Homo sapiens: one gene and its partners. The protein of the gene in region 3 interacts with the protein of the main gene of each other region in a pairwise test. Each region holds a gene or a part of one and is shown on either strand. Other genes may lie near its edges. The genes, in order: KANSL1, PSMA1 and CDR2.

Evidence for each region.
Region 1: the proteins of CDR2 (region 3) and KANSL1 interact in binary tests that used the Homo sapiens proteins (3 or more experiments, as listed by UniProt).
Region 2: the proteins of CDR2 (region 3) and PSMA1 interact in binary tests that used the Homo sapiens proteins (3 or more experiments, as listed by UniProt).

What each region holds. Positions count from the first base shown.
Region 1 is NC_000017.11:46,036,275-46,039,929, forward strand, and holds part of KANSL1 (KAT8 regulatory NSL complex subunit 1), read right to left. Parts: intron 3,611-3,655; coding exon 3,428-3,610; intron 2,942-3,427; coding exon 2,753-2,941; intron 2,413-2,752; coding exon 2,264-2,412; intron 1-2,263. UniProt on the Homo sapiens protein: Non-catalytic component of the NSL histone acetyltransferase complex, a multiprotein complex that mediates histone H4 acetylation at 'Lys-5'- and 'Lys-8' (H4K5ac and H4K8ac) at transcription start sites and promotes transcription initiation.
Region 2 is NC_000011.10:14,510,232-14,513,886, forward strand, and holds part of PSMA1 (proteasome subunit alpha type-1), read right to left. Parts: coding exon 3,586-3,655; intron 3,469-3,585; coding exon 3,339-3,468; intron 721-3,338; coding exon 641-720; intron 1-640. UniProt on the Homo sapiens protein: Component of the 20S core proteasome complex involved in the proteolytic degradation of most intracellular proteins. This complex plays numerous essential roles within the cell by associating with different regulatory particles.
Region 3 is NC_000016.10:22,368,107-22,371,761, forward strand, and holds part of CDR2 (cerebellar degeneration-related protein 2), read right to left. Parts: intron 1-3,655.

The DNA of each region.
Region 1 (3,655 bases), on a different chromosome or scaffold from region 3:
GCAGCTACTGGCTTTTGGGAAGCACTGACAAAAACACTCGCTCTCCTCCCTACCTTTCTCCAGTGTCCTCTGGCTTCTTTACTTGATTTCAAGGAGAGCTGGCCCTTTGTATCCATGGGTTCAACCAATTGTGGATTGAAAATATTTGGGGGAAAAAAATTGTGTCTGTACTGAAAAGGTACAGATTTTTCTTTTCATTATTCTCTAAACAATACAGCATACTATTTTTATAGCATTTACATTGCATTAGGTATTATCAGTAATCTGGAGATGATTTAAAGTATATGGGATTTAAAGCATACACATAGGTTATATGCAAATACTATGCCATTTTATATTAGGGACATGAGCAACAATAGCTTTTGCTATCTATGGGAGGTCCTGGAACCAATCCCCACTGCAGATACTGCAGATACTGAGAGCCTGCTGTTATCTGGCCTATCTTCTTTCTTTTTTTTTTTTTGAGACGAAGTCTTGCTGCGACGCCCAGGCTTGAGTGCAATGGCTTGATCTCCGCTCACTGGAACCTCCGCTTCCCAGTTCAAGTGATTCTCCTGCCTCAGAGTAGCTGGAACTATAGGCACATGCCACCACGCCCAGTTAATTTTTGTATTTTTAGTAGGGATAGGGTTTCACCTTATTGGCCAGGATGGTCTCGAACTCCTGACCTCAAGTGATCCACCCGCCTCAGCCGCCTCCCCAAGTGCTGGGATTATAGGTGAGCGCCACTGTGCCTGGCCTATCTTCTTTTACATAAATCCAGAGTCTTTGAAAAAACTTGGCAATGAGAGAGCCTCAGGGGTTAGCATAGTGCTATACACAAAATTTTTACTCAATAAATGGTAAAAATTTCAAGTGATCCAGGCCTAAGTTAACATTCTCCAGACACAGAAATATTGAAGTGCTCACCAAGTCCTGAATCTCTGAGTTCAGATTTTCTATCAGAATTAGTTTAGACTCTTTTTTATAAATACTTTGGTTATCTGAAACCCTTTGCTGCTGGATAACTGAGTATGTGAGGGACACTACACACCTATTTAGATAAAATTTGTGGGTTACGGGGGTAAAGAAAGTCGAAGAGCAAAGAGACCATTTGGAAAAGATTGATTTGTAACAGCAAAGAGAGAACAATGTGAATTCCTACCTGATCACAGGAGCCTAGTGAGTCCATTTTATGAGCTTGGAAGTTTCCTGATCTAGGCTCTGAAGGAACTTCCTAAGTTGCCTCTGCAATACCCTCACCCAGGCTTAGCCTGTGTAGTGTAATGGTAAAAGAGCTGGCTCTACAGTCAGGCTGCCTGAGTTTGAATCATAATTATAACCCTCACAAGTTGCCTTGACAGTTTTCATGCATATAAAATGAAATCCACAGTACCAACCTACATCTCAAAAGGCATTATAACATGTAACACATGTAAATCACTGATCACTGGTATGTAGTAAGTGTTCAATAAACATTACAGTTGCAGACTTTTACATTTACCATTACATTACATTGTAATTATTATACAAAAAGGACCCTTTGAGTAGGTCCATAGCAGCTACAGGTATGTATGTTCCAAGAGGGCACACTTGAGGAATTAAAATATTAGAATGAAATTAAAGGAAATGTGTCTGGAATAGCTGTGCAAACTGCTTCCAGATGGAGTGTGGTATCGTAAAATCTGGTGTGTGCATGCCAAATGTCCTGCCATGGGGGCCTGCTGGATCTGTAATTCTGCTCTGTATACCTAAAAAGCATGGACTCTGCCTTCTCCCTTCCCTTCTCTTCTGGTACCCTCACGCCTAGTGTTTATTCTTAGTACTTCACCTCCACTCACCCAGAGAGTAAAACCAAGGAAATCAAACACTGCTTCCAACGCCCATGGGAATCTCCCCTCTACCCACCCCTCCTCTCTTGTTCACTTCTTGGGCCAACAGGATTAGGGCCACGGAACTGTTGAGTCCTGTGTGAAACTTAGTCCAACAGATCTTGAATAGTCACAGATCACCTTAAGAGTTTGTCCCTGCATCAAGCTTTCTATGGATGGCTCAGCATAAATCCATCTCTGCTATGAAAAACAACTCAAGAAAAACAACAGAAGGTCAAGTACCATGACTTTGACTTAAAAATGGTACAGACATACATACATATGTCATGATGAGCTGAGATCCTATAAATGCCCTGGGCTTTATAACCCACCCTCACACTGTCCTCTGGAGCCACTTGAGTGAGCTGTGACCTGCAGAGGGGGTGTCCGGCCAACCCCACACAGGTACTTACCGATGTGCTGGCTGTAACCTGTGAGCTAGAGCTGGCGGGTGCAGGGGAATCTGAGGAGGTGGAGAGCTGTCGCACCAAGGGACTGTGTGGAGGATGGTGGGTGGCTGCCAAGTAGCTCGAACTGCTCATGTCTGTGTGATGCTTCAACACTGCAGAAGTCAACAGAAAAGAGAGAAATACATGGCTATCTTAACCAGCGTTACTTCTAACACAAGCTTGGAATGGCAGCAATACATACTAAAGGCAAAAATGTTTTCTATGCCTAGAGGATAAAAAGGTGAAGCACACTAGCTGTGGGAAGTAGGGGCAGGGCAGAGGTTGCTGTAGCAGTTAAGAAGTGACCTCCATTTAGAAGCAGTAGCGTCCCTCTACTCTGCTTTCCTAGAAAGTGAAGGACAAAGCTGGGGGTAATTAAGAGAAGCCTAGGCTGCCCCAGAAAGCCCTGAGCAGGTGCAGTTGCAGGTAGAGGTGCCATGGGCCTGGCCCTACCTTCACTTCTCTCAGATGAATGGTCTCGCAATCTCATTTTGCTGTGGTTTGGGTCATGCACGGGTGGTGGTGGGTTGAGCAAGCGCTCTGCTTTTGGCGCTGTCACTCGCTCCACCATGGGCACGGCCCCCACATCGTCTAAGTGCTGCCTGTGGGTCCTGTCAGGCCGGGTTTGGTGATGGGACAGCTCTGAAGAGGGGAACAGAAAAAGAGCTGTGAAATATGTCCTCTCAAATATTTTCTTATTCGAGTTCCAAGCTCTCGAGTTCTCTCTAGGCCAACGCCGTATACCCAGGGCAGCAGGACAGTCCTTCAGGACTGAAGTTTCTAGTAATTTGCACAATGGCTAGGATAGGCACAGGGAGCCCAGAACCAGAGAAACATGTCACCAGGATACAGAAGACACCTGCCCGTAGATGAACTCAATGCCATGCCATTGCTGGCTGTTCACTGAGCATTTTGGGTCTTGCTCCAAGATCCATGGTGTCTAGAATAGCTCCCGAAGTCCATCTGAGAGCATCCAAGACAAGCAGAAGCAGTCACTGTGAGCTGAATTTTTTATCGGTCAACTGCCTCTCCCAACCCCAACATGCATGCAAACTACAAATTTGAGAATATAAAAGGAATGAAAAGTCACTGATACTCTGGGGGACTTCCCGGCTCCCTGACACTTACTGGCTGTTGTTAGGAAGGAGCTGACCAATTTGTGCCTGTCCTTACGAGCTGAATCTGGCAGACTGCCCGGCATGGGTGCTCTGTGCTTAAGCGATAACTTTTTGGGAGGTTTGATTTTGTCAAAAGGCTTGTTCTGCCACTGAGATTTCAGCATGCTCTGGAAATGCAGGCTTGTGGGAACATCTGCAAGAAACATAAAATGCTACAGGTTAGTCCAAACACCTGGCC
Region 2 (3,655 bases), on a different chromosome or scaffold from region 3:
AAATACTAGGGCCTTTGCATTTGTATTTCCTAGAATAATTTTGCTCTAGATCTGCATAGCTCATACTCACTTACCTCCTTTATATCTTTTCCTCAAATTTCATTTTCTTGGTGAGAATATCCTCAACCACCTATTTTAAATTACACCTACCTACATCCAATTGGTCATTCTTTCTCCTTTTAACGCTTTTTTATTTTTTACATAGCATTTATCTTCTTCTAATATACTATATAATGTACTTATGTATATACTGTCTATCTTTCCCTACTAGGATGTACGTTCCATGAAGAAAAAGTTATTTGTTGTGTTTACTGTATTTTCAATGCTTAGAAAGTGCCTGCACATGGTAGGTGCTCAATATATATATATTTTTGTTAACTAAATAATACCAAGATATGCCAATCTGCTGAAAATAATGAAGGACATTTTGCATGAAATTTACTGGTTTTACTGCTTTGTACCAAAAAGAAATGTTTAAAAAATAAAATTGGATTACTTAGCAAATAGCTTAAAGGAAAAGAATCTGCCAAGACAATCATATCCCAAATTACAGAATGTTGCATATATACTCCATTACATTTATGCAATAAAGGTTTAAACTGTAACGTTAATATCTACAATTGGAAAAGACAATACTTACCTTTGTAGTCAGGTCCTGTTCTGCAGGAAGCGTCTCTCTTAAGGCACGCAGACCATGTTTAACTAGTTCATTTAAATTACCTATATGTAATAAATTAACAATTATTTCTTAATTTCATTGTTATGCTAGGCTTCTGTTATTTATCAAATCTACAGTCTCAAATTGTGGTTTTTAGTTACACACTAAATTTATCACAGTAAAAACAGCCAAGTTTAATGCTAGTCATATAATCTTTTAATAGCATTCTATGACATTGCTGATTCTTATTTTATTTAATGAGAGGACTCATGATTTTTGTTACGATTTTGATCTTCTCTTTTGCTAGGTCAAATCAAAATCCCGACTATAAATTATACAACTCCAAGTTTTGTAGAATGTGTTCTGTAGAATCCTAGTCCTTATATTTGCTCATTGTAAAAAGGAATCTCCAACTTATTCTATGTGGCCAGTATTACCGATAACAAGAATAAAAACATCACAAGAAAATAAAACTACAGACCCAATATAGATGCAAAAACAAAACAAAACAAAACAAAACCCTCAACAAAAACTACAAACGGAACCTGGCAACACATTAAAAAAATTATATACCATATACAAGTGAGATTTATCCCAAGAATAAGTTAGTTTAACAACTGAAAGTCAGTGTAATTTTCAGTTACACTGAAGGAAGGGAGAAAACCTGCATAACCACCCCAAGAGATGCATAAAAAGCACGTGATAAAACCTAAAATGTTTGCATAATAAAAACACAAAACAAACTAGTAATTGAAAGGAACCTCTTCAGTCTGATAGAGGGCATCTACAAAAAGCTGACAGGTAACATCAATCTTAGCAGTGAATGACTAAAACCTTTTCCCTTAAGTTTAGGAACAAAAAAAAGAAGGTTTGTTCATGCAACTTATATTCATCATTGTACCAGAGGTTCCAGCCACGGCAGTTAGAAAGGAGAAAGTAAAACTATCTCTATTCCCAGACAACATGATCTTAGGAATCTATAAAAAAATGACTAGAACTAATAAACAAGTTCAGCAAGATTGCAGGATATAAGATTGATATATAAAAATCAACTGTATTTCTATATAGTTGCAATGAATAATATGCAATGAAATTAAGAAAACAATTCTGTTCACAACAGCACCAAAAATAATAAAATACTTTAAGACAAATATGATTTGTACACTGAAAACTACAAAACATCAGTGAAAGAATTAAATACCTGGTTGGGTGTGGTGGCTCACGCCTGTAATCCCAGCACTTTGGGAGGCCCAGTTGGGCGGATCGCCTGAGGTCGGGAGTTTGAGACCAGCCTGACCAACATGGAGAAACCCCGTCTCTACTAAAAATACAAAATTAGCCAGGCGTGGTGGCGCATGCCTGCAATCCCAGCTACTCAGGAGGCTGAGGCAGGAGAATTGCTTGAACCTGGGAGGCAGAGGTTGCAATAAGCCGAGATCGCGCCATTGCACTCCAGCCTGGGCAAAAACAGTGAAACCCCGTCTCAGGAAAAAAAAAAAAAGAATTAAATACCTAAATAAATGAAGATATTCCATGTTCATGGATCAGATGCTTTGTATCATCAAAGTAGCAGTACTCCCCAAAATTATCTATAGATTTATTGCAATCTTTAGGAATTTCCTATCCAGGTTGAAATGTGCTAGGCAGAGGGTGCTGATATGAGCAGTTCTGAACCAAACTTTGGACACTGAGTTTCTAATGAGCTTCTCTGGGCAGAAACATCACATACATATTGCTGCAAGTGTACTCTGTGACTCCTTATGGGAAGGAAAGAGCATAAGGAAGCCTGCACATAGATTCCTCTGGACTGTATTTTTCCTTAATGATCCACCTATGTACTGTTATTTTATTGTTAAAAGTCTTACCTGGGAGTACAACTATATGCTGTGCGCTTTAAGTCCTAGCATATCTCCAAATTTAGGGGTAACCTTGGGGACCCCAAACCATTTACCATAATTTACAATGTTAAACTTTAAGCCAGCATTTACCAAGCTTATTTGTCCAAGGAATCCTCTTTTCCCAAAGTTAAACCTATTGTCATCCCACAAGTTTGCTTTGAGTAATGTCAATTAAACTATTTTTCTCTGCATTCACTAAACCCCAAATATTTCCTCCAAAGAATGCTTTGTCACCAGAAAACAGATAAGATGACAAAGAGAAATGTAAAACCCGATACCCTCCTTCCAATGCAAAGCAAAGCACTTGAAAACCTGTCCTGTCATAACATCTTACCTCTTTTACCTTCTTCTCCCTCAACTACACTGCCTTTTTATTTCTTGTTTATGGACTACTAATGCAGAAATGTCTGTGTGGCTTAAAATAACAAAAGACTCACAGAAAACTAAAAGTGAACAGAGCTTACAACTGGCAGGTAGTACAGTGGTTCTCCACTCTCCACTCCACAGGGCACACTTCTGACCAAATGAATCAAGAATTTTCAAGGTTGGGAACACATTTATATTTTGAAAAAGTTCTACTCGTGCTTGAAACTACTGTGGTAACCAGAAGTTAAGATTAGTATATGTGACAGAAACAATAAACTCTTCATGGGCATAATTTTTTTTAAAAAAATTCTTTCTATAAGACTTACAGTTTTATGCATTTAGGATACTATGTTTATTTACTATATAGACTGGAAAAGGCAAAAAAAAAAAAAAAAAAAAGCAAGGCTGTCACTTACACTCCATAAATTCAGACATATGTCTCTCCAAGTAAGTACGAGCTGATTGGGAACGGGCTCCAATGGACATGGCTCTGCAGTCAAAATAGTTAGCAGATGGACAGGTTTGGAAAATGTGAGGGCCCATATCCTACAAATAGAAATAAATACACCACATAATTATTTACTTTGGTTGAACTAAAAATTATAAAAATTTCTAGTTAATTAAAAAAAATCATTAACATATAACAATATTCAATGAACTTACATCATAACCAGCAATAAGGAGACCAACACCATATGGTCTCCGGCCATATCGTTGTGTTGGTATCTGGGTC
Region 3 (3,655 bases):
AGACTTCCATTAAATCTATGAAATAACTTGTATTTACAAAACACAGAACTTTTACAAATAGCTCAAAGCATTTAAGAGACATTAGTCTTTTTCTTGTCATTATTTATTTATTTTTTTTGAGATGGAGTCTCTCACTCTTGTCACCCAGGCTGGAGGGCAGTGGTGCGATCTCGGCTCACTGCAACCTCTGCCTCCTGGATTCAAGTGATTCTCCTGCCTCAGCCTCCTGAGTAGCTGGGATTACAGGCACCCACCACCACACCTGGCTAATTTTTGTATTGTTAGTAGAGATGGGGTTTCACTATGCTGGCCAGGCTGGTCTCGAAATCCTGACCTCAAGTGATCCGCCCACCGCGGCCTCCCCAAGTGCTGGGGATTATAGGCATGAGCCACTGCCCCCAGCCTACTTTTTGTTTTCTAGAGACATTAGTCTTTATATCTTTAAAGGTATTTAGTCCAGTTTCTCAGATGAGACAGCCTGAAGCACAAAACTGTTAATTGACCTAATCAAGCTCCAAGGTGAGTCACAGATCAAACAGAAACTCTTAGGTCAACAGGTTCTCACTCTCACTCTCATCACGATTCTTTGTTATCTTCATCTGCAGAGTTTTAAGGCAATTGAAAGAGAGGTCCGCAGGCTTCTTTAAGGTAGAGAATACAAATGTTCCCCTTGTTGAGGTACTTAATTTCTTCTACTTGTTTTCACAGATTGCAATGAGAAATTAGAGTTCAACTATTTGGGTTTTTATTGCCTGCTCTGCTAGTGAAAGCACATACAACCCCAGGCAAGTTAATACCCTGTTTTCACCAAATGAAAAAGGAACTATGTATGGCTCAACATGTTCCAGAAAAAATGATTTTGTACTCACAGAGTGTGTAATGTGTATACATAGACCCATATGGAAGCTACCACACTGTATTAAAGACAAAGTATAAAAACATTACCTAGGTATTACTTAAGTCTTTCCTTCTTAAATGTGTGAAGTGGTAATTCCTCACTGGGAAGGCTCAGATTCACCAAAGATGCTCTTAACCAGCAATCAAAGCCTGAGCCAAGGACCGGGTGTGGTGGCTCACACCTGTAATCTCAGCACTTTGGGACGCCAAGGCAGGAGGACTGTTTGAGGCCAAGAGTTCGAGACCAGCATGGGCAACATAGCAAGACCTTGTCTCTTAGCAGGAAAAAAAAAAAAAAGAAAAAAAACAAAACCCAACTGGGCTGAAACCTCTCCCAGAATCCAGACTGTCTTGAGACTATCACCACTTTCATTCAGTTATGGAACTACCTGTGCTACTTAAGAGTAGCCAGGAACCTCTTCCCTGCTCCTGCAGAAAGAGATACCAAGGACAGCACTCTTTAGTAGATAGCAAACAAAAAAGAATTTGAGACTTGTCCTTATCTCAAACCTTATTTCCAGTAAAACAAAGCACCAGCCTGGCTCAGAAACCTGAAGTCTCGATCTCCTAAATATTTATAGGCTGTTAAGGATAGAATTTTAACAAGTCCCAACTACAAGAAAGCTCCTGTGAAGTCACACTGTATAACAGGATATTACTTCATCTGTTAGCTTAAAGACACCGGACTTTGTCTTTAAAAAAAGTTCATTTCCTGTTGAGTAGCAGCTGGCTTCCATAACCAAAAGAGGCCAAAAGCTGGCAGTAAGCCCAAGAAAGTTTTCTAAATAATTAGTGGAGGGAATAGAATATTGAATGTCCCTTATAGTTTTAATTAAGGCACAAAAGAAAAGGAAATAATATAGTTTCGAAGCCTTATACACCTGTTCATCTCTACAGGATTACAAAATGAATTTTCATTAAGAGGGTCTTCTCTAAATCCTATTGAACTGGCCTGGTTTAGGCAACTACTAAAAATACTGTAGATTTATTGCAGGCTTGAGAATTTCAACATATCAATACCTTCATATGTTGAATATTCTTTCACTAATGAGTCTTTGCAGGTAATAATATATTTTTAATGGTGTAAACTGTTAGCTTTAAACAGATACTCAGCTCTATGCTTTAGGCAAAAAATTAGTACTGGCAGCTGTAGTCTGTAGGAGTAATTCACTAACAGTAAGGCTGAAAGTTTTTCCTATTACAAAGTCAAATGCGTCATTTAGTGATGCTTCTGTTTAACTCCTGTTGCCAATGTTACTATAATTGGGAAAGCAGAAAACCTGAATATAAATATCAAGAAAAATGATGTTGTCAGTTTTAATAACCCTCCAAACAGTGATTCAGCAAAATAGTTGTACACAAGGAGGATGTACTCATCCTGCAATTTTAGGATTCCTTTAAACTAAGAGTTCATTTACTGATCCACATAACAGAAACCTGAATCCTTATTCTAAGTTTGCACAGCTCACCAAATGACAATAGCAGCTGGTTTAAAAGAAAATCCAGTCTCTGAAGTCTTTCCACCTTGTTCTCAGGGGCATGTTTCAAAGCAAGCACCATCATTACCTGCACTGAAGGCTCCTGCTGTCCCAGAAAAGATCTTACCCACAGAGATTATTGTCAGTATTCCTACTGAGCCAACTCAGCTCTCTGACAAAAGACAGTCTCTTCATCAAAGAGTTTTGTAACAGCAAAGGGTTTTCTCCTCCTGCCTACACAAAAGCTTTACATGTTTCTAACAAGGTATGAATAGTAGACCAGAGTTTACTGAGGTTAGAAATTTCCAGCAATTTCAATTTAAAAACGGATACCCTAGGAAACTTTGATACAAAGATTCAATCTATTCAGAGCATGGCTTACTACTGCTAAAGGAAAACATTCTATAGTTGTAAGATACTGAGAACAGGATCATTAAAAGTTGTTTTCCAGCCAGGTGCGGTGGTTCACGCCTGTAATCCCAGCACTTTGGGAGGCCGAGGCGGGTAAATCACGAGGTCAGGAGATTGAGACCATCCTGGCTAACATGGGGAAACCCCGTCTCTACTAAAAATACAAAAATTAGCTGGGTGTGGTGGCACGTGTCTGTAATCCCAGCTACTTGGGAGGCTGAGGCAGGAAAATGGCTTGAACGCGGGAGGCGGAGATTGCAGTGAGCCAAGAGCGTGCCACTGCACTCCAGCCTGGGGACAGAGCGAGACTCCACCTCAAAAAAAAAAAAAAAGTTTTAAGCAGTTCTCTCCAAATAAGCCTTGCTCAGTAATAATAATGAGGATGTTAAAAAACGGACAGATGCCTGCACATAAAATCCCACTAGACTTGCTGAATAATCTGTTTAACAGGACAGACCTGCTCCCAAACTTAATTCAGCAGCAAGTGTCTACTGAGGGCCTACAATGTACGAGGCGCTGTAGTGGGCACATCCCATGAGGCGGCACCTCCAGGCTTCTCTAGTGAACAGATTCCTGGAACATTCACTCTATGGGAGTAGGAATCCTACCTATCCACTCATGTGGGGAGGTGCTGTGGCCCCAGGGCCCAGGCGAATACCTGGCAAAGAGCAGATAATACATTTTTGAGAAATGAACAAGTTTTAAAATCTGTTAAAAGTTTAGGAGTTAACATATAACTTAGCAAAACTGGGGAAAGGATACCCTTTTATTCACACTGTAGCCTTTATTCTTTGACAGGCCATATTCACAAGTTACAATTGTTGGAATTTCACATCTTCTACTCGTACTCCATATAGTTGGTTATGACA